Homo sapiens: one gene and its partners. The protein of the gene in region 4 purifies or fractionates together with the protein of the main gene of each other region. This does not show direct contact. Each region holds a gene or a part of one and is shown on either strand. Other genes may lie near its edges. The genes, in order: EDC3, HERC5, MRPS5 and CCDC59.

Region 1 (7,041 bases), on a different chromosome or scaffold from region 4:
ATCTCCTGACCTCGTGATCCGCCCGCCTCGGCCTCCCAAAGTGCTGGGATTACAGGCGTGAGCCACCGTGCCCGGCCAATAGCCTCTTTTTAAAGGCTAGCATTGTGTCAGTTGGATAGTTGGTGGCTGACCCCTGTCCTTAAGCACACAGCCCCCTTTCCTAGCCTCTGATAACTCAATAAAATGCAGTCCTGCAAAGGGGTAGCTGTTTGCTAATGATCTCAGTTTCATCATTCTTACCACTATTATAATTTTGAGACTTGGCTTTTTTGTGTATTTCAGGGCAGGTGACATTACGGAGTTAAAAATTCTGGAGATACCAGGACCTGGAGACAACCAACATTTTGGAGACCTTCATCAAACAGAATTAGGCCCCTCTGGTGCTGGCTGCCAAGTGGGCATCAATCAGAATGGCACAGGCAAGTTTGTCAAGAAGCCAGCCTCTTCCAGCAGTGCCCCTCAGAATATCCCTAAGAGGACAGATGTGAAGAGCCAGGATGTTGCCGTTTCCCCGCAGCAGCAACAGTGCTCAAAGAGCTATGTCGACAGGCACATGGAATCCTTGAGTCAGTCCAAAAGTTTCCGTCGTCGGCACAACTCCTGTAAGTAGGGTCAAGTTGATATTTCTTCTCAATCTGGTGTTTCAGGGCTATAAGCCATAAGCACTGCTGCTCTTTAAACAAATCCTTTGTTATTCCAATAAAATGGATGCTGGCTGAGCGTCACAGAAATACAACATGGTTCTCTTCCTCCAGGCCTCATTCCTCAAGATGTTAAGGGAAAGGAAATAAGCTGTTAGGGATGCCTGTGAGCTTCCTGCCCTCTCTTACCACTTCCTTCAGGAAAAGTCTGCCCAGAGTTTACTAACAGTGATGTTTTAAATCCAGGAACTACTGGGCGTGGTGGCACGCATCTATAGTCCCAGCTACTTGAGAGGTTGAGGCAGGAGGATTGTTTGAGCCCAGGAGTTCAAGGCTAGTCTGGGCAAAATAGTGAGATTCTGTTTCTGAAAAAGAAAAAAAAAAAAACTTAAATCCTGTTACTGATGTTGGTAGTAGTGTTTGAGTTGAACCTGCACTTGGGCTGTTCCAGAGGATTCTTGAGTAACTTTTCTTCCTGTGATTTGAGTCTCATCCTCAGAAGAGAGGAGGGGACTGATCCAAACATCTCTGTGATCTTTGATTTTCTAGCAGACAATTTTTAATTTGCTGTATTTGTTCCTACTGACACACCAAGAAGAATGTGCATTGGTCTCTGTTGCTGCCCAGTTTTGTTTGATACTAACACATTATTAAATGCCATTTGCTGATTATAAAACCATAGTTGTGACCAGGCACGGTGGCTCACACCTGTAATCCTAGCACTTTGGGAGGCTGAGGCGGGCAGATCACCTGAGGTCAGGCGTTTGAGGCCAGCCTGGCCAACATGTTGAAACCTCGTCTCTGCTAAAAATACAAAAATTATCCGGACGTGGAGGTGCATGCCTGTAATCCCAGCTACTTTGGAGGCTGAGGCAGGAGAATCCCTTGAACCCAGGAGGCAGAGGTTGCAGTGAGCTGATATTGTGCCACTCCAGCCTGGGCGATAGAGCGAGACTCTGTCTCAAAAATAAAATAAATAATATAAAATAAAACCATAGTTGTGTTGGTGGTATGATGGTGAGCATAGCTGCCTTCCAAAACCATAGTTAATTCACTAGAACTGTTCTTCTCCAACATATTTACTAGAATAATGTTACAATAGCGAATCATAACATTCACTGGAATCTGTTATGCTCCTTAAATTAATATGAATGTTGTTTTAAAAAATTACTTCCAAATGCCAAACTATTCTTATTTTACTTAGATGGTTTTGTACTCACAGATGGTAGCAGAATGTATTAGAAATTTTAAGTGAGAGGCTGGGTGCAAGTGGCTCACACCTGTAATCTCACTACTTCAGGAGGCTGGGGCAGGTGGATCGCTTGAGCCCAGGAGTTCGAGACCAGCCTGAGCAACATGGCAAAACCCCATCCCTACAAAAAAAAAAAAAAAAAAAAAAAAAAAATTAGCTGGGCGTGGCAGCGTGCACCTGTGGTCCCAGCTACTCAGGAGGCTGAGGTGGAAGGATGGCTTGAGCCAGGGAGGCGGAGGTTGTGATTAGCCAAGATCATGCCACTGCACTTCAGCCTGGGTGACAGTGTGAGACTGTCTCAAAATGAACAACCAAAAGAAATTTTAAATGAGTATTCATTAACTCATTTAAAATTATAAGCTAGAGTCATGCTATGGCAATACCTTCTAAAAGGCACAATTTAGAGTGAGCTAGGTCTCTCTAGACCCCACTCAGAAAGTTTATTACATAAAATTCCGGATACTTCTTGCTACCATTGTTGCTCCTCACACTGTGGTCCTGGTGGCAATGTAGTAAGGTTTTAGTGTGCTGGGTGAATTCTATTAGTAGCTTGTGGTGTGACACCTGTGTCAGGGGCCAACATTTTAAGTTTTGGAGATGCCTGATTCAAGTGAATAAACAACTAAATTAAAACTAATTTTTTTTTTTTTTTGAGATGGAGCCTTGCTCTGTTGCCCGGGCTGGAGTGCAGTGGTGTGATCTTGGCTCACTGCAACCTCCACCTCCCATGTTCAGGTGATTCTCCTGCCTCAGCCTCCCTAGAAGCTGGTACTACAGGCACTTGCTGCCATGCCCGGCTAATTTTTTTTTTTTTTTTTTTGAGACAGAGTTTCGCTCTTATTGCCCAGGCTGGAGTGCAATGGCGTGATCTTGGCTCACCGCAACTTCCGCCTCCTGGGTTCAAAAGATTCTCCTGCCTCAGCCTCCCGAGTAGCTGGGATTACAGGCATGTGCCACCACGTCTGGCTAATTTTGTATTTTTAGTAGAAACGGGGCTCCATGTTGGTCAGGCTGGTCTCAAACTCTCGGCCTCCCAAAGTGCTGAGATTACAGGCATAAGCCACTGCGCCCGGCTAATTTTTGTATTTTTAGTAGAGATGGGATAATGCCATGTTGCCCAAGCTGATTTCGAACTCATGACCTCAGTTGATCTGCCTGCCTCGGCCTCCCCAAGTGCTGGGATTACAGACGTGAGCCACTGCACCTGGCCTAAAAAAATGTTTTAATGTATGTAATATACAGTTTCAAGGTAGTTTCCTTTGGTGCATATGAAACAACTATCTGAAATGACGATGTTTGCAAATATGAGACTGAAATTCAGTTGTGACTTCTGTATCCTTAGAAAAACTGTAGAATGCTTGGATAGAAAATGATTCTTTCCATTTAGACTTTAACCTTTTTCTTTCTTTCTTTCTTTCTTTCTTTCTTTCTTTCATTCATTTTTGAGACAGGGTCTTGCTTTGTCACTCAGGTTGGAATGCAGTGATACGATCACAGCTCACTACAGCCTTGAACTCCCAGGCTCAAATGATCCTCCCACCTCAGCCTCCTGAGTAGCTGGGACTACAGGTGTGTGCCACCATACCTGGCTAGTCTTTTTACTTTTAGTAGAGACAAGGTCTCACTATGTTGCCCTGTCTGAAAATCTTTTTTCTTTTAGCAGAAATTGTTGATTTGTTAGAAGTTCAAATAGGCAGTTTATAATCTTCCGTGCACTTGAAGATGACCCTTATTAGCAATTCATATTATTTTTTTCTACACATTTTTCCCCGTTATTAACGTCTTACATTTGTATGGTATACTTGTTATAATTATTGAACCAATGTTGATGCATTATCATTAAACAAAGTCCATATTTTATTCAGATTGCCTTAGTTTTTACCCGGATGCCCTTGTTTCAGGATCCTGTCCAGCATATCACATCATATTTGGTAGTCATTTCTCTGCTTGGCTCTTACAGTTTCTCAGACCTTCCTTGTTTTTGATGACCTAGACATTTTGATGAATACTGGTCAGGTATTTTGTAGAATGTCTCTCAGTTGGTACTTGATGTTTAAATCATGATTAGACTGGGGTTATATGTTTGGGGGTGGAAGACAACAGAGGTAAAGTACCATTTTCATCACCTTGTGTCAAGTGTATATATTATCACCATGGTTTATAACTTTTGATGTTCACCTTGATCACCTGGCTAAAGTAGGATATATCTAGTTTCTCCTCTGTAAAGTGACTCTTTCTTCCCCTTTACATATGTACTCTTTGGAAGGAAATCACTATGTGCAGCCCACACCCAGGGAGTGAGAAGTTATGTCCCCTCTCCTTGAGGACACAGCATCTTCAGACATTACTTGGAATTCTTTTATGCCAGAGATTCCTCTCTTCTCCCCCATTTGTTTATTTATTCAGTCATTTATTTATATCAGCATGTACTCATGGGTATTTATTTTATACTTTGGCTTATAATTCAATATTACTTTATTTTGGTACTCAAATTATTTCAGTTTTGGCTAGTCTCCAATCTTTCACTTGGATCTCATGTCCCTTTGACATACTCCAATCATTGTGGATTTTATTTTTTTTTTTTTTTAGTACTTAGGTACTTTCTCACACTGAAAGATGCTTACTACTACCACTACTACTACTACTACTGCTGCTGCTGCTGCTTCTCCTCCTCCTCCTCCTCCCTCCTCCTCCCTCCACCCCCTCCCTCTCCCCCTCCCTCCTCCCCCCTTCTCCTTTCTTTCTTCTTCACTAGGGATGCTCATTGCTCCTGGGTGTCACCCTTATAGCTGACAGCAAGAAAATGTGTATACTTCTCTGCAGAGTTCACAGAAAAGAAAATATATGTGTGTATATTTAACCAGCATATATATACATATTTAAATATTTCTATATGTAACTATGTATATTGTACTATACTAAGTATGAGTTCATACTGATGTCTCCAACTTTAATCCATTACCACATGGATCCTTCTAGCCTTCTCCTTTTGCTTGTCTGTTACTTCTCACTCCAACAGTGAGAAACCTGTCTCCTATTGTCATTCATTCTTTACATAATTATTCAATTCCAGTATACATGTATAGTGGTATCAGAATTATTAACTTGTATCGCCATTCCTGTGGGAGACTATCAAACAGAATGTGGTGCTTACGTACTGTTTCTTTTGCCTTTCATCTGACTCCATTCATTTCTAGAGTTATTTAGGTCTCCCATTTCCTTCATTGACTTGTTTCATATATTCATAATACAATTAATTTGTTTTATCACATTCTGCATTCCATCCTGGGATCTTCTAACCTCCTAAATGATTTTTAAAAATTTGCAAACACTAAGGCTCACTCTTTGTGCTGTAAAATTCTGTGGGTTTTGACAAATACATAGCATCATGTATCTGTCATTACAGTATTAAACAGAATAGTTTCATTGTCCTAAACAATCTCTTGTGCCTTACCTGTTCAACTTCCCCCACTTCCCCCTGGCAACTACTGATCTTTTTATTATACCATCCCTGCAGTTTTGCATTTTTCCAGAATATCACATAATTAAAATCATACAGTATGTAGCCCTTTTCAGACTGGCTTCTTTCACTTAGCAAGATGCATTTAAGATTCATTCATGTCGTTTTGTGACTTGATAGGTCATTTCTTTAATTGACGGATAATGTTCCATTGTGTGGATATATCAATTTGTTTACCCATTCACCTATTGCAGGACATCTTGGTGGCTTCCAGGTTTTGGTTATTCTGCTTTTGCTGTTTTGTCAGTTTCCTTTTTCTAGATTGTTAACTGTACATAAATGAGGTAAAGAGATCATAGGGCAGTAAAATGTTACTATTTTTCAAGAAACTTATGTAGAATCCAGATTAGTTTGGAAAATGTTTGTGGCCTGGGAATGGCAATAAGACGTGGCTCAGAATAGGTTTCTGATAGAAGGTAGAGTTATAATTATTTTTCCACTCATTGAGCCCTGTAAGTAAAAAGGTCTGCCTTAGAATTTTCTCCAGTTTATGTACATTGATATTGAGACTAGTAGATTGATGAAGCTATAGAAATATAATCTGTCGGCCGGGTGTGGTGGCTTATGCCTGTAATCTTAACACTTTCGGAGGCTGGGACGGGCAGGTTGCCTGAGCTCAGGAGTTTGAGACCAGCCTAGGCAACATGGTGAAACCCCGTCTGTACACAAATACAAAAAATCAGCTGGGTGTGGTGGTGGGTGCCTGTAATGCCAGCTACTCAGGAGACTGAGGCACAAGAATTGCCTGAACCTGGGAGTCGGAGGTTGCAGTGAGCTGAGATTGTGCCACTGCCCTCCAGCCTGGGCAACAAAGCAAAACTCTGTCTCAAAAAAAAAAAAAAAAAGGAAAGAAAGAAATATAATCTGTCTTCAGTTCTGGCTTTTAAGTGTTCTTTCAGGATTGCAATAAGGAGTTGAGGAATTTGTTGGTTTATAATAGTTAGCTAATCCAACACTGATGATTTAGCACAAGCAGATTTTAATCTCTTTTCGGGTGGGAGTGGGTTTAAAGAATCATGTAAAGAATAGTTTTTCTGTGACCATTCAGAATGTTTGTCAAATAGACATAACATCAGTCCCAGGGAGCAGAGGGAAACCAAGCCTTGTTTAGGGTGCAGCTCTGTGTATGGGTATAATTCATATTTATCAAATCCCATGTCACAGCTGAAAATGGTGACCATGAGGGGCAGATGAAAGGCATCCCTCTCTGAAATCTTAGTCTATGAGCTTGAATAGTCATTGTAACATGCAGTTGAATAAAAATTTAACAGTTAAGTTAAGGCTCTTTTGCCTGTAGAACATGAAAGTAGATAGCTGAGGCTGGGCATGATGGCTGATGTCTCTAATCCCAGCACTTTGGGAGACTGAGGTGGGCAGATCACCTGAGGCCAGGAGTTCGAGACCAGACTGGCCAACATGACGAAACCCTGTCTCTACTAAAAATACAAAAAATTAGCTGGGCCTGGTGGTGCATGCCTGTAATCCCAACTACTTGGGAGGCTGAGGCAGGGAGAATTGCTTGAACCCGGGAGGTGGAGGCTGCAGTGAGCCGAGATCGTGCCATTGCACTCCAGCTTGGGCAACAAGAGTGAAACTGCATCTCAAAACAAACAAAGTAGATAGCTGGC
Region 2 (7,041 bases), on a different chromosome or scaffold from region 4:
GTCTCCCTTACTACACCATGAGCTTCTAAAGCACAGGGAGTATGTCTCTTTTATTCTTCATCGAGTCATCATTACAGTGCCCAGCACACAGCAAGTATTCAAATGTTTGCTGAATAAATGAACACATGCCAAAGGTCTGAGAGTCCGTATCGCAGAACCTCAAGATAGAAAGAAACATTACAGGTCTTCTAATCCAATCATCTTATTCTGAAACAATGGAGGTCAAGGATGCCCTATGATTATTTCATTTACATACCATATGTTCTTTTTGTGGCACAATCAAGGTATAATTAGTAAACAGAAGGAGCCCTTAATGATGAACTGATCCAATCCCTTCCCTTCACAGACGCACAAAAGGGCTTCTATTTTTGGTAATCTTTCCATGGTTGTATTTAGTAGCAATGACTCAGAATCTTACAGAAAGAAAGTTAAACTGGCCCCCACAGGAGGATTTTAGAAAACAAAAGAAAATGAGCTCTAACAAATGTTGATGAAATAGTCCACTGAGTAGTTTCTGGGTTGTTGATACAGGCAGCACTAAGTGTTGTAGGGTCCCAATAAAGGTACATAATTAGGGAACCATTTCACCTCGGACCCCCAGTGGGGCTGTGGTTCTGCCAAAGTTAAGAGAACTGAACTTTCCATCTTTCCTTGAAAGAAAGGAGCGAATGAGAAAACTTGCAGCTGAAATAGAAAATGCTAGTTGTGGCAAACAGAGCAAGTGCGGGAGCTGAAAGGAGGAAGGGTGAGAGATCAAAGATTGAGAGGGAAAGAGAAGAGGGATATGAACACAGAGAGAGATTAAAAAATGGGGTGAGGCTAGAGGGAGGAAGGAGGGGAGGAGGGAAGGAGAGAGAAAGAAAGAAGGAACTACAGTGCGACCCAGAGAGAAAAAAATGGAGAGTAGAACAGAAAGTAGTATCCCCATATCAACCAGTAAAATAAAATAGGGAAATAATAAAAACTACATTAAGAAAAACTAAATTAATAAACGAAGCATGCAGTAAGCCGAGATCGCACCACTGGACTCCAGCCTGGGCAACAAAGCGAGACTCCGTTTCCAAAAAAATAAAAATAAAAATAAAGGAAGCATGTTTGGAGCACCTGCAAAAAGAAAACCTAAAGATAGCAGTAACAGTGCTGAAACAGGAAACAATCATCCCATAAGGAACAAGAACATTCTAGAATCTACAGAAAAGTAGAATGGAAAAAAAAAAAAAAAAAGAATCCAGGCAGTCCCTGGTGAGAGGGATATTCATATCAGAAAAAATGTTCTCATTTCTACATTTATGCTTTGCATATAAAATGTTCTTATTCTAGTGTACCAATCTCAACAAATCCTTAATCATCTTCCTAAAGCCCTGAGTTGAAAAACTTCCCTCTACGAATGTGTATGCATATATGTGTATGTGTGTTTGTGTACAGACACACTATTTAGAATATCTGTAACCTGTGTGACTACTATGCCAACTATTTCACCCTAAAAGGGCAAACTCCTAAATGTTATCTGAGTTTAACTTAATCTGAATATGCTACAAGGTCTCGGAGAATCCCTTAACACAAAACATTTCTTCTGAAATTTTGAGTTCTTTTAAGAAATATTCTGGTGTATTTTCTTTCTCCACATAACAATCTGAAGATACCATGTTAGTAATCCAGTCCTTTTGGGTTAACTCCTTGAAGATGTTTCTTGCTTTATTTAAGTCCAAATAAACAGGCATCATTTCTGTAGTTCTTCTGTAGAAGAAAGATAAATTAAGTATTTTGTTAGATTATCTCCCTAGATGCAAAGTTTCTTCTAGAGCTTGCCCCATTTCAACAAAATTACCTTTTTTCTCAAGTGTGTAACTATAATAAATTGTCTAAATCCAAATGCAATGTAGTAAACATGATTTTTTCTAAAATACCAAAAAATATCAAGGCTGCTTTAACTGTATATACCATAAGACTTTAACTCAGATGCTGTCTTATCTGTAATAGATTAAAAAAATTAATATTTCCCAGTTTAAAAAAAATAGCCACAGAGGGAGGCTGAGACAGGATAATCGCTTGAGCTTGAGAGATCAAGGCTGCAGTGAGTTGTGAACATGCCACTGTACTCCAGCCTGGGTGACAGAGCAAGATCCTGCCTCAGAAAAAGAAAGAAAGAAAAAAAGAAAAGAAAGAAGGAAGGGAAGGAGGGAGGGAGGGAGGGAGGAAAGAAGGGAGGGAAGAAGGGCGGGCCATAGAAAAAAGATAAAGGTTTTTCGAAGGAAGGAAGGAAGGAAGAAAGGACTGACCACAGGAAGGAAGGAAGGAAGACAGAAAAAAGATAAACATTTTTCCCATTTCTAAAAAATACATCCATTTCTTCCCGTTAAATGGACTGAAAAGTGGGAACCAAAAGAGAGGGCTTCTGACCAATAATTTCTTAGTACTTCAATATAAAGTTATTAATGAAATGTTTAAGTATCTTCTCATGGAAGACCTTCTAATGGAAGGTCATGCAGCCATTAAATTATGTTACCGGCTGGGTGCGGTAGCTCACACCTATAATCCCAACACCAGGAGGCTGAGGTGGGAGGACTGCTTGAGGCCAGGAGTTCAAGACCAGCCTGGGCAACATAGCAAAGCTGCTGTCTTTACAAAAGCTAAAAAATTAGCAGGAGGTGGTGGCACGTGCCTGTAGTCCCAGCTACGTGGAAGGCTAAGGTGGGAGTTTTGCTTGAGCCCAAGAGTTTGATGATGCTTGAGCCCAAGAACCAAGATGCTGTAACTCCAGCCTGGGTGATGGAGTGAGACCTTGTCTCAAAAAAAAAAAAATTACCAAAAAAGATAGAATAAAATGTAAAATGGGCAAATATTAGGTAGAAAACAATGTATAAACAATATGATCCAGCTGGGCATGGTGGCTTACACCTGAAATCCCAGCACTTGGGGAGGCCAAGGCTGGTAGATTGCCTGAGCTCAGGAGTTCGAGACCAGCCTGGCCAACATGGTAAAACTCTGGCTCTACAAAAAAATACAAAAATTAGCTGGGTGTAGTGCCATGTGTCTGAAGCCCCAGCTACTCAGGCTGAGGTGGGAGGACTGCTTGAGCCTAGGAGGCAGAGGTTACAATGAGCCAAGATCACAGAACTGCATTAAAGCATGGGCAACGACAGGGCAAGACCCTGTCTCAAAAAAAAAAAGAAAAAAACAAAGAACCAGTATGATCTCATTTTTTTTAAAAGAATACATTTGCATGAAAAAATATAATCATATACGTAAGTGCTAGCTATTACTCTTAAGTGATGGATTATGGAAGATTTTCACTTTCTTTTTATTGTGTGTATTTTTGACATTTTCTACAGCAAACATATATTTACTTTTGTTAAAAAAAATTTTTAAAAAGGGATGAACACACAGCTATTTTACTCTCCAATCATTTTTTTATCCTCTTTCACGGTACTCTTAATACAATTTAATACAATTAATTTATTACATATATTACCTTTTCCTTAAAAAACTTCCAGTTAGACAAGCAGGAGATGAAAATATCTCTTGGATTTCCCTATATTAGTAATAAGACACTGGTTAAACCAAATCACATGGTATACATACATACAGCCTCTTTCTTTACAGCATGAGACATGATAAATACCACATCTTATAACTATCCTTCCAACCTCTCCATTTGTCTCCTATCTGTATGCATATTACCTTGGCTTGGCTTCTAAAAGTCCATTCTGTTTGGTAAATCTCAAAATTTCAGTGGCAAACATGGGAAATAAAAAAGTTTATACATACTCAGAGAAGCCTCAAATAAAGAGGAAAGGCTTGATTTATGGTCAGAACTTTCTTGAACAAACAAAATACTCCCACCCCACCAACTATGCAAGTCCTATTTATTTCTATTCCACTGAAGTAGAAATAAATTACCAGAAATTAAATGGGGGAAGGAGTATGCTCAGTTTCATCTTAGAAGTAGTTGTACAGTTCTTAATTATTTATGCTCTGCAAATTATGATGCAACTATTTTGTGCAACTACTTTGTACAATCATTTTCCAGAATTAGAAAGCCATACCTAAAAATATTTCTAAAAGATGATGTTTGTAAGAATAGGTAGGAGTTCTGTAAACCTATAGGAGTTCTATGGTTTAGAGAAGAATGGTACAAATTGTTCAGCTAAGAATAACAGGTACACAAACTAATGGTTCCAGGATCAAATGGGACTGGGAAACACTATAGACTCTATTTTCTGGCCAGAGAGTCACAATATACATAAACAGAGGCCTGGAGAAGCCCTACAGTAAAGAAAGCTGTCCTCATGGCGCTTACATGCTAGTTGTGATGGGTTAGTTTTATATGTCAACTTGGCTAGGCCATGGTACCAAGATATTTGGTCAAATATTATTCTGGATGTTTCTATGAAAGTATTTTTTTAGATGAGATTAACATTTAAAATGGTAAACTGAGTAAAGCACTTGAACAAGTGAATAAAAAGAAAGGACCTTCCATAATGTGAGTGAGCCTCATCCAGTTGAAGGCCTTAAGAGAAAAGGCTGAGGTCACCCAAAGAAGAGGAAATTCTGCTTTTAGATTGCCTTCAGACTTGAGCTGCAACATCAACTCCTCCCCAAGTCTCCAGCCTGCTGGCCTGCCCTACAGATTTTGGACTTGCCAGCCCCTACAATCTCATAAGCCAATTCCTTAAAATAATCTCTCTCTCTCCCCTCCATAGATACATAGATGGACAGACAGACATGATAGAGATAAAGATAGAGACAGAAATACACACATATCCTATGAGTTTGTTTCTCTGGAAAACCCTGACTACAAAATCTCATATTGCTGTGCAGAACCAGTTTGGGAAATGATACTTGAGAGTGATATATAAGCAGAGAGTCAGACTGTGGGGTGTACCTTTTTGTGCTCTGCCACCGTTTAGTCTCCACATCAGCAATCCATCTCTTTACAGTCCCTTCATTCAGAGTAGGAATTGTCCTCTTCAGATTAACATATGAATTCTGTAAACAAACAGGAAAGTAAAATACAATAATTTAGACACATCAGAGATAGGCACCCAACTTTTAGGTACACTCTAGAGAGTAAAACTGACTTTTAAATATGTGTAATACAGCCCTGGGACAATCACAAAGTGATACTCAACAAATAAGTAATCAATCATTTGCCTGGTTGCCACTTTCTTGTCCAAGGGGGCTTAGACTGAAAGTAAATTTCTTTGAGGACTCAACACTCAGCACTTTATACAAATACAATCAAATTAAACTGAACATCAGACAGCCTTGAAGGGAAGGGAAGATCCTGAAAGAGCTGTGTGCAGAAGTGTGAGGAACTCGATTTCACTTGGTGAAGTAGGGCAGGGAAGTTATGGACTTTTTATTTGCAAGCCCATGAACCTTGGTGTCTTTCTTAGTACTGGCCTGCAAAGTCATTTTTAGAATCTGTCACTCTGTTGTTTGCAAGGATACTGACCAAACATCATTGGCAAGTAGCCCCCAAAAGGTAAGTATAGCCTATGGAAATCACACTGATTAGACATTCACCAGAGAAAAATCTGCTGATTTTTGTGGGAAAATACTGATGTAGTTTAGACAATAAAGGATCAGTAATGTCCAGCTATCCCCCAAAAAGTCAGCCTGGTAAACTGATGATTTTGGAATTCACCAAACTGGGATACTAGAACCCTTAGTTTTGCTTAAAATACCAGGTTATAGAACACCTGGAGATCTATTTTTACCTCTTTCTTTATCCAGAGCAAAATGCTTTGATTCCCTCCAGCAATCATTATTAACTCCTTTTCTGAGGTATGGCTTTCTGAAAGGATGCACAAAGAGTAAGAGTTTTAGAAAGTCATTTGGCACAAACATGCATGTTCAATTTAAATAACTTCAGATTCTTCTTAAACGTAGTCATCTTTTCTTCTTAATAGACAAAACTTAGTACATTTTCTGCCAATTAAGCAGCTGAAATACATATCCTTTGGAGTAAAGTCTAGTTGGCAAACATAGGTAATTCACAAGGTGGACATGTGACATCAGTTTAATATACATAATACAAATATTTATATATAAAATGCAAATATTTGATTAGCTAAATGTTATCAGTTTAATTCAACTCCCATTACTAAAAACCATGTTTTCAAGATTTAAGCAATGACTGCTGGCTATAAAGAATATAAGTACTTTAAGCCCATGTAACTGTTATAAGGAATCAAAGATAATACATGCTGCTTAAGGAAATAACTCTGTTCGTTTTCCTACAAGAAATGAGTAGATTTTGTTACTTGAGGTCACCACTAAGCTTTCAGAAACAAGTAACAGAAATGCTCCAAGGTGCTTCTACAATGGAGTGTTTCAGAGCTCAGACTCTGAGGTCATAAAGGGCACGGGTTCAACTCCAGACAAACCACTTACTGGCCATGATTAAGTGGCTAACCCTTTTCTCTCCAAGTCTCTTTATCCTCCAGTAAAAGAGGAGTGACAGAATACACCTCCCAGGAACTGTTACAAGGATTGGTGAGATAACACAAGTAAGTGCTGAGCACAGTTCAGTGCCAGGTATACGTTGATTGCTCATTATTCTGAGGGTTTTATATGACTGTGGATCAACTTAACCAGGGCAACCAGCCAATTACAAGAATTAGTAAACAACTAATTACAAGAATTAGTAAGTCTCTTGCAAACTGGAATGAGAGCTGCATATGCCTCTGAATCCATTGTCTATTTTATCATTTAAATTCACATTAATCCTAATCTGAAGGAGTAATATAGAATAATTATTTTGCCTCAGTAAATTAGACTGACTCTTGAATTGTTTACCAGTAAAAAATGAAACCAGTATTTAGAGAAACTCCCTTCATAGTCATATGTTGCTTTCTTTGCCACATTACCTAGTTAGAAAAATCATTTTCTCTAAAAAGATACTATGCCAAACCCTATGTTCCTATAGAATTTACCAAGTTTGAGTTCTTCACTTGATGATACTTTCACTGGAAGCGGCATCAGCTGGTCACGTGTTCCACCATTTCCCAGTTGTCCATCTTTTCCAGAACCAAA
Region 3 (5,981 bases), on a different chromosome or scaffold from region 4:
TCTGGGGTGCCAAGAATTTTCATGCATGTTTATTAATCTCAATAACAATCCTGTTTTTTTGCCCTCAAAATGTGTTCAAGATATTTGTAGATGTCATCTTCTTAATCCTTGTAGTATCCTGTTTGAGTAAGTGTCATCTTGGAAGTTAAGTAAGTTGTCAAGGGTCAGCTCACTAGGAAGTGGTGATACCAGAATATGAACCAGTTTCCCGAAGCCCAGAGCCTGAAGCCATGCGAAAGCCAGCAGGGTGACTCCTCCGGCTGCAGGCGAGTGGGCTGTGTTTCACCCGGTTTCTCCTTTTCTAGGTTACGGCCTCCGCTGCCACAGGGCCATCATCACCATCTGCCGGCTCATTGGCATCAAAGACATGTATGCCAAGGTCTCTGGGTCCATTAATATGCTCAGCCTCACCCAGGGCCTCTTCCGTGGGCTCTCCAGACAGGTAATCCTTTCCCGGGGTCTGAAACAGAGGTTCTAGTTTGTATTTCAGTTGTGTGTGTTGGGGCTACGATGCCCTGGGGCCTCCTGGAGATGCTTTCCTGGGGCCACCTGAGGAGTTGGGCATTCTTTGTTGTCTGTGACTGCATCAGTTTAGTTAAATCCATTGACAAGTTCATGAAAATTACCTTTTTTTTTTTTTTTTTTTTTTTTGAGACGGAGTCTCGCTCTGTCACCCAGGCTGGAGTGCAGTGGCGGGATCCCGGCTCACTGCAAGCTCCGCCTCCCGGGTTCACGCCATTCTCCTGCCTCAGCCTCCCAAGTAGCTGGGACTACAGGCGCCCGCCACTACGCCCGGCTAATTTTTTGTATTTTTAGTAGAGACGGGGTTTCACCGTTTTAGCCGGGATGGTCTCGATCTCCTGACCTCGTGATCCGCCCGCCTCGGCCTCCCAAAGTGCTGGGATTACAGGTGTGAGCCACCGCGCCCGGCCTGAAAATTACCTTTTAAAAAGTACTTCATGGGTTTTTCTAAGCAGCATTTTTAAAGCCAATAATTACAATCTACATGTTATTATGAAAATAACACCTGCTTGTTCTAAAGCTCCAACAGTATAGAAAAGTAAAATCAAAAGAGAAAGTTCATTTCCTAATTTAGTCCTTTCAGTTGGGGCTAGGATGAAGCACCCAGGGCACCTCTGCACACAGGGCAGGCACAGTCAGTTCCCTGTTACCTGTGTAGGTGGTTCGGACTGATGCCTGGGTTGGTAGGGAACTATGAACATTAACATATCAGGTTACTTTTCCTCATAGGTGGGAGCCCTGGGCCCGGCTCCCAATCACCCACCATGGAGGGCAGGGCTGTGACTGCACCGGGCCCCCATTCTTGGGCAGCTCCCCTACCTGCCCAGGAGGGCTGGCCTGTCTCTTGAAAGGATGGGTAGACCTTAGCATAGGTGGATGAACAGAAAAGACAACCAGGTTCAATAGGCTCCATTTGCTGAACTCTGTTAGCTGAGGACTTTGGCAGGCTTCCTGACATTTCAGGAGTACAGTGGTGGGTTTTAGGTAAAGTGATCCATGGAGTAATTTTACATGTCTCTGTTTAAAGTAGGAAAATTAAAAGAAAAAGAAGGCTTTGGGTAAAAGCCTTCTGTTTTCTGAACAGCTTTTGTGTGTGTTACTGTCTAAAACACCCTTCAGAGCACTTGTAAATTGAAACATTAGAGGTTTAATTAAGATGTTGATTTTAGATAGGTTGTATTTATGATCCAGTAGACTTGTTCTGTTTTTGGTTTTTGGTTTGTTTGTTTTTGCTTTTTGAGACAGAGTCTTGCTCTGTCACCAAGGCTTGGAGTGCAGTGGCTCCATCTCAGCTCACTGCAACCTCCGCCTCACGGGTTCAAGCGATTCTCCTGCCTCAGCCTCCTGAGTAGCTGGGACTACAGGCACGTGCCACCATGCCCGGCTAATTTTTGTATTTTTAATAGAGATGGGGTTTCACCATGTTGGTCAGGCTGGTCTTGAACTCCTGACCTCGTGATCCACCCGCCTTGGCCTCCCAAAGTGCTGGGATTACAGGCGTGAGCCACCGCGCCCAGCCTAGACTTGTTCTTTTATGTGATATCTTTGTTTTCTTTTAGTCTTTTAAACCTTCTGATATAGTTACCATATGTCATCTCTCCTAAAATGCCATCAGCTATAAAAGGTTGCATTATTTAATATGTCACTCAAAAAGGAAAAGATGCCACCACTTTAGGTGATATGCCTTTGATTGAAAGATACACCAATATAAATTATTTTGTTTATGAAATGGCTCATCTGTTTTCTAATTTCACACATACTGCAGGGCATTAGATATATAATTAGAATAGTGCAAGGCAGCCATAAGGCCTGGGATCACGGGATTGACATAGCAGGTATGTCATTGTACCATGAATAACGTCTACTGAACTAATCTGCCTGCTTCCAGATCTCTGTGGCTTCCCTCTGCAGTGAATCCCCATGGCCCTGTTACCCAGCTCATGACCAGTCTTGCTTCTTAGTACACCCCCAGTTATTTTGAACCAAATCTCAGACATTTTATTTCAACCCTAAATATTTTAGTATGTATCTTCGAAAAGATGAGGATTTTAAAAAATACCCTGTAATACTATTATCATACCTAAAAAGTTAACAGTAACTTGTATCATCAAATATCCAATCAATGTTCATACAAATGAGCAAATTCCATTTGTTAGATTAAAAAAAATTTTTTTTTTTTTTACACAATGTGTTTGAATCAGGTTGCAGAACAGGTTAATGTATGTTTTTGCTATGCCTTTTAAATAGGTTCCCCTCCTCTTCCCCCACCCCCGCCCCGCTTATGATTTTTTGTTGAGGAAACCAGGTTGTTTGTTTTGTAGTGCTTCCTGGCCTGTTGCTGACTAAAATACCTGTAGGGTCCTTAGTGTCTTATCTCCCCTATATTTACTGTAAATTGGTAGTTAGATCTAGGGGGTTGGTGAGATTCAAGTTCAGTGTTTGGCACAGCATGGTGCATAATCAGGAGGGTTTAGAAGGCAAGAGACCAGAGGCCAAGGCCCTTCCTCTATCCAAGTTTGGGGTGGGCAGATGCAGCAGATGAGGCTGAAATGACTCCACCCATGACAGGTTATTAGAGTTTAGCCACAAAACACATTAACCCAAATCCACTGAAATGGCCTTTGAATACCCCCAGGCTGTACTGTTGTGGCCTGTGGAAGTTCCTGCTCTTTATGTTGCAAATGTACTTCAGACCTAACCTGTTCTGAATTTGGTCTTGCTTAGGAAACCCATCAACAGCTGGCTGATAAGAAGGGCCTCCATGTTGTGGAAATCCGGGAGGAATGTGGCCCTCTGCCCATTGTGGTTGCGTCCCCCCGGGGGCCCTTGAGGAAGGATCCAGAGCCAGAAGATGAGGTTCCAGACGTCAAACTGGACTGGGAAGATGTGAAGACTGCACAGGGAATGAAGCGCTCTGTGTGGTCTAATTTGAAGAGAGCCGCCACGTAACCTCTCTGGCCTTGTGCAGCCAGTTCCTGTGCTGCCCTGCACCTAGGAGAGACTCAGCCCCTCACAGCTTGGGATGTTACCTTGCCTTTTGTTTGTTTTGAGGGAAGTTTAATCTTTAAACTCTTTGGAAATAAATAATTATAGCTTTCATTTGTTGAGCACATGTTATATGCCAATGTGATAGAACCTTTACATACATATCTCAGTTCAAGACTACTTTAAATATTCATCCAAAGTAACAAAAGTAAATGAATTAGGGAGACGGGGTTAATAATTTGACCCAATCAGTAATAATGTACACAATGATAATTGCTGTAGTAATTATAGCTAATATATATGAACTCATTCATCCAAAGTGAATGTGATTAACTTCATTTTACAGAGCAGTTAAGTAACTTGACTACCGTGAGGAACTTCCAAACCGTTTTCCACAGTGGAAATGGAAGTTGTAGGCTACTATTGGGAATGTTAAATGGTATATTAATTGTATACCATTGCAATTTTGACTTGTATTTCCCTGATGGCTGATGATGTTGAACATCTTTTCATGTGCTGATTGGCCATTTGTATATGTTTTTTGGAGAAATGTCTATTCAGAGCCTTTGCCCATTTAAAAAGTTATTTTTTATTATTATTGAGTTCCTTATAGTTTCTAGATATAAGCCCCCCTATCATACATGCTTTACAGAAGTTTTTACCCATTCTGTGGAATATATATATTTTTATTTCTTTGCATACTCTTTCTGCCCCACCCACATCCTCTTTCTGGGACACTGATGACCAAAATGTTGAATCTTTTACTATTGTCCCGTGAGTCCCTGAGGCGCTGTTTATTTTTTTTCCAGTCTGTTTTCTCTGTGTTGCTCAGTTTAGGTAATTTCTATTGTTTTATCTTCAGAATAACTGGTTATTTACTCTTTCCTTTCCATTCTGCTCTTGAACCATCCATGCAGTACTTTAACTTTGACTGTCATTGTATATTTCAGTTAAAATTTCCATTTGGTTTATTTTTTATGTCTTCTCTTTATTTGCTGAGGCTATTTGCTGAGACTTTTTTTTTCTTTAAATGGCTTCAAGAGTGTTTATAATTGCTCACTGAAGCATTTTTATGGTGGCTGCTTTAAAATCTTTGTCATCAGGTAGGTGTGGTGGCTCACGCCTATAACCCCAGCACTTTGTGAAGGTGAGGCAGGAGGATTGCTTCAGCCCAGGAGTTTGAGATCAGCCTAGGCAACAAAGTGAGACCTCATCTCTACAAAAAGTAAAAGTAAATTTAAAAGTTAGACACACATGGTGGTGTATGCCTGTAGTCCCAGCTACATAGGAGGCTGAAGTGGGAGGATCATTTGATTGCAGGAGGTTGAGGCTGCAGTGAGCCTTGTTCATGCCACTCCAGCCTGGGTGGCAGAGTGAGACCTTGTCTCCAAAAAAAAAAAAAAAATTGTCATAAAGTTTCAACATCTGTGTCATCTTAGTGTTGACATCCCTTGAGGTTTTTTCTCATTCAAGTTTACAATGTCCTAGTTCTTGTTATGATGAGTGACTTTGGCTGTATCCTGGTCATCTTCACTGTTATGAAGCTCTGGGAGTTATTTAAATCTCTCAGCATGCTTCCTCTGACGGTGCTGGTATGGGATGGGGCACTGCCTCGTTACTGCCTGGTGAGGATGGAGATCCAGGTTTCCTCCTGTCGCTGTCCTCGGGACCTCTGCTGAGGCCTTTCTGCTGGAAGTAGGAGGAGCACCCTAATGGCACCGTGGGATAGGGAGCAGGCCATGTTAGGCTGGATGGTGAAAGTTTTCAGCCTGTGACGTTGTCTGGTGTGGGTGGGTCCCCTTTTTTTGTGTGTGGTATTTTGCTAGAGTAAGGTAGTTATTTCCTAAAACTTATCTGTCCTGTTAGTTTTCCTTCTTAAGTACCTAACAAATATAAAGACAATGAACTTTAAGCAATAAAAGACAATGATCCTTTGGAGAGGGGAAACAAAATTATCTGTACTTACTATCTGCGGAGAGTCCGTGGTTCTAGGAAGGGTTACCCCATCAGGACCTGGCGGTCTCCTGGAGTTGAGGTGCAGTTGGGCAGTCGAAATGACTAGAGTTCACAGGGGAGAATGCCTTGGAGGAGAGAGTTGCACAGCAGGAGAACTAAGATCTGCAGAGAGTTTCCATCAGATATTTAGTTACACACTAATAGTGCATGCCGGTGAGGAAACTCACCCAAAAGAATTAGAGGGAACAGTGTTTGGAGTGGAAAATAGTGCCTGTTATCAACAGTCACAGTGGAAAACCTTGTAATCTAGGTGGCATTGGAAGAGAACTAAGATGCCCTAGTAGTAGAAAAATTAACTCTACATAAAAACTACCCCTGGTCCCAACTCAGAAAGCTTAAAAACAAGACCAAACTGGAACACAACTGTTTCAAAGTAACTTAATTGTGTTCCAGAACAAAGCTCAAGAATATAGGAATACAAAAAATATACCCAATAAAGTAAAATATACAATACTTGG
Region 4 (3,626 bases):
AGAACTTTTACCTTTTCACTTAAAGCAAACACTCAGTGTGGTGTACAATTTAAAACATATGAATTGTTTATTTCTGGAATTTTTCAATTTAATATTTTTGGACCTCTGTTGACTGCAGGTAACTGAAACCGTGGAACAGGGAAACCATGGATAAGGGGTGTGCTACTGTACTATAAAGTTGAAGGTGAATAGGACTGAGGACAGGTCTCTGGATTTGTGGACTAGGCAGTCACTAGTCACTAGTCCAAAGTCGCTAGTGATTAGTAGCTATTAAAATATTATATTGTAGTTACAGAGTATAGTGAAAAGTTGAATGATAGAGGAAAGTAAAGTTATTACTGAATCAAGGATGCTGAGGAAATGAATGGAATTCCAAGTAGTTGGATTAGCCTTGACAAAAAGGACATCTTCAGAGAGGTGAGAAGTAGTTAAAGATAGAACAGTTCAAAATGGTATCTAGATCCAAGGTATGGTGATTCATGACTAGGTAGGTAAAATGGAATAGAGAGGAGGGGCTCAGAAAACTTCGAGATTAAAGTTCATATATACACATAATTTTCTTAACATCCTTAAACAACAAGTTTAATTCTTTTTTCAGTCTGGCATTTCTATCATTCATATACTGGTTTCATTACTTTTAAAAGTTTTTTTTTTTAACATTTTAGGATTTTTCATAGCTTTCTATATTTTTTCCTAGTTGAAATATTTCTCTAAGAATCCCCATTTGTGCCTTTTATTTAATATATACTCTTAAAAGCTACAACTGTGTTTTTAATACCTTTTTGGACATTTTACTAATAAAGTCCTGTTTCCTCATCCCCCAATTAAAAGCTCCTTTACAATTCCAAAGAAAAATAAAAAGAAAACATCAAATCAAAAAGCACAAGAAGAATATGAACAGATACAAGCCAAACGTGCTGCTAAGAAACAAGTAAGTTCTACTTTGAAAATATTTAGTATAGTTTTTCTTATTTATCCTAAATATATATACTATACCTGTTGTGCTTCTTGGTGCTGGGCACACAGTATTCTCTCTGTAAATATTTGTTGAATGAATGAGTAGTCTGAGCAAAGGTAGAGGATTGCATCTTATTCCAAGTCCTTGCTTGTATTATGTCAAGCAATACTAGTAGGTCAAAAATAGGATTTTGAACACATTGTTTATAGGTCAATATTGTGAACATCTGGGACAAAGTTTCACTGAGTTTGGTCCAGGAACTTGCACTTGTTAACAAGCACCTCAAAAGATTTTTATGTATGATAAAACTTGAGAACCACTGACCTAAGAAAAATATAGATGATTTTCATAACATTACATTGAAGAAAGTAAAAGCAAAGGGGAGGTGTTAGAATAAAATACTTTTTTACTATAAAGAGGTGTTCTTGCCTGTTTAAAAAAAAAAAACAACTATTATTTTAGCTTAGCAAAAGTTAGCACTCTATTATTTAGAAAACCAGAATTGTAGACCAGAATTAGGCTTTTTTCAAATGAATACAGAATTACCCACAGCCTCAACAAAATTGTCATTTTGTTGTAACTGTGGTAGTTCTTGTTTTTCCATTGAAGTTTTATTGATCTGTAGCTTTAAAAAGTATAATGTGTCAGTTAAAAATACCCTAAAGATATGTAATTTTGCTTGTTTTTGCTTTAGAATATCTGTAATTAAGAATTCTTAACATCAAAAATGTTTTCATTGTTCTTAAGCTGGTGGCAGATTAGGAGAAAGCAGGAAAATTTCTTCATGGGAATACTGGACCAGTATTAACTAGCACAGCTTTATGCTTTTTCCAACCATCTGTCACCTTTGGAAACAGTATATCAGATGAAGTGCAGTAATGACCATTATGCTGTAAAACATTTAATGTCCTTTTAAAATTTTGTTTATATAGAGCTGGGGCTTTGTGATCATGAAAATTCTCTGTTATACCATGGGTCATTATAATATGAAGGCAAAGAGGGTACTTTGCTTCAATTAGGAGAAACAGTGCACATCTTGCAAAATAGAAGAGACAAACCTTAGAGTGTTTGCTTAGTAATAGCTATTTCAAGACAATTTCTGAACTGTATCTACTGTTTGTTGCTAATGAAAGTTACATATGTTAATAATTTTAGGAATTCGAGAGGAGAAAACAGGAGAGAGAAGAAGCCCAAAGGCAGTACAAAAAGAAGAAAATGGAAGTGTTTAAAATACTGAACAAAAAGACTAAAAAGGGCCAACCAAACTTGAATGTACAAATGGAGTACCTTCTTCAAAAAATACAAGAAAAATGTTAAACATTTTGTTCCTACAGGTTAAAATATCTGCTGCCTATTAGGTTCTTCTGTGACATGTGCCTCCCAGCAGTGAACTAAATTTGTCGACATAAACTGGATTGCTAAACTATGCTAAATATAAGATGTTCACATATTTTTATTATGGTAAAAAATTTTCTAAATATGTTCTACATGTTTCTTATTTATTTGCCTCTGAAGGAAGGTTGGCCTGAAGAACTGAAAGAACCTCTTATTTTGCAAGACAGGCCCAAGCATGTAATACTTTTGTACCATATGAGATTTATATGAAATAAATTTTTTAAAAATAAGGAATCAGAGCTATCAATGAAGCATTTCAATGAAATATTTCAATTTAGTAAACAGTTACGTTGTTTTAAAATTTATTTTAATGATGAGGGAGGCAAAGACTCCTCTTGGACTTTTTATTTATTTTAAGTACATGTTACAGGGTGATGGGTGCTGAAATAAACTGCCCTCACCATATAACAAAGCGACCTTCACAAAGCAGTGAACTCAAAGTCTGATATTTATAAACATTCCCTTAAATGGATGTACATGGCTTGTTAGTCTAAGGTCTTTTAAATAATGATGGAAACCCCACAGTGTCACAGCAAGAATTAAGCTTTCCAGTTCCTATGGACCCTATACTTTAAGAACATTATCTCTGTCTCCCTTGTTGGTACCCTTGTGAGCTGAGATAAGCCACTGGGATAACTGCTTCTCATGCTTTGCAAATTGCAGAAGAATGAGAAAGGCTTGAAATATATATATAGTCATTGTAAGCAAAAAGGGCTGACCAATAATACTTGCCAAATATTGAATAATAAAATTTTATAAATGATAGCAAATACAGTCTGAAATTGCATTAAGATTTTAGGGAGCTCTTTCAGTCTACTAATTTATTCTGCATTTCAAGATCAGTAGAAAGTGCTTAGATAACACTGAACTTAATCTTCATTGCATAGAAAAGCAATGCTTTAGAAATTTGCATTGCACTATATTGCATTTAAAGTAAGCAGCCCAGAAAGCCTAAATTTGGCTACATTGGTGAAGACACATCACATCATGATGGAGGATAAATTATTTCAGTAAATTGCTTTACAATTTTTGTGCATTTTCACTTCTAGACACTTAATCATGACAAAACATGGAAGGAGATCTAGTCCTTTTGAGAGACAAGTGAAAGTCAAATTATATTCATTTTAACGACTTTGTTAAAAGCTACTTTATGCAAAACTTATATTAAGGAGTTACTCTTTAAAATTCCAAAGTTCTTGTAGAGGAATAAATGCCAAGTAATGGTATAATGGGGGAAAAAGTAATCAGTGACAATCAGATAAAGCAAAAGGTT

What was found.
Region 1: the proteins of CCDC59 (region 4) and EDC3 purify together in Homo sapiens (affinity purification with mass spectrometry; 2 studies listed by BioGRID and IntAct, with this or other methods). This does not show direct contact.
Region 2: the proteins of CCDC59 (region 4) and HERC5 purify together in Homo sapiens (affinity purification with mass spectrometry; 2 studies listed by BioGRID and IntAct, with this or other methods). This does not show direct contact.
Region 3: the proteins of CCDC59 (region 4) and MRPS5 purify together in Homo sapiens (affinity purification with mass spectrometry; 2 studies listed by BioGRID and IntAct, with this or other methods). This does not show direct contact.

What each region holds. Positions count from the first base shown.
Region 1 is NC_000015.10:74,665,016-74,672,056, reverse strand, and holds part of EDC3 (enhancer of mRNA-decapping protein 3), read left to right. Parts: intron 1-282; coding exon 283-602; intron 603-7,041. UniProt on the Homo sapiens protein: Binds single-stranded RNA. Involved in the process of mRNA degradation and in the positive regulation of mRNA decapping. May play a role in spermiogenesis and oogenesis.
Region 2 is NC_000004.12:88,467,105-88,474,145, reverse strand, and holds part of HERC5 (E3 ISG15--protein ligase HERC5), read right to left. Parts: coding exon 6,942-7,041; intron 6,516-6,941; exon of another isoform or gene 6,440-6,515; intron 5,801-6,439; coding exon 5,724-5,800; intron 4,990-5,723; coding exon 4,886-4,989; intron 3,533-4,885; coding exon 3,473-3,532; intron 1,738-3,472; coding exon 1,644-1,737; intron 1-1,643.
Region 3 is NC_000002.12:95,084,847-95,090,827, reverse strand, and holds the end of MRPS5 (small ribosomal subunit protein uS5m), read left to right. Parts: intron 1-305; coding exon 306-442; intron 443-3,246; coding exon 3,247-3,471; 3' UTR 3,472-5,459; downstream 5,460-5,981.
Region 4 is NC_000012.12:82,351,800-82,355,425, reverse strand, and holds the end of CCDC59 (thyroid transcription factor 1-associated protein 26), read left to right. Parts: intron 1-831; coding exon 832-931; intron 932-2,113; coding exon 2,114-2,275; 3' UTR 2,276-3,123; downstream 3,124-3,626. UniProt on the Homo sapiens protein: Component of the transcription complexes of the pulmonary surfactant-associated protein-B (SFTPB) and -C (SFTPC). Enhances homeobox protein Nkx-2.1-activated SFTPB and SFTPC promoter activities.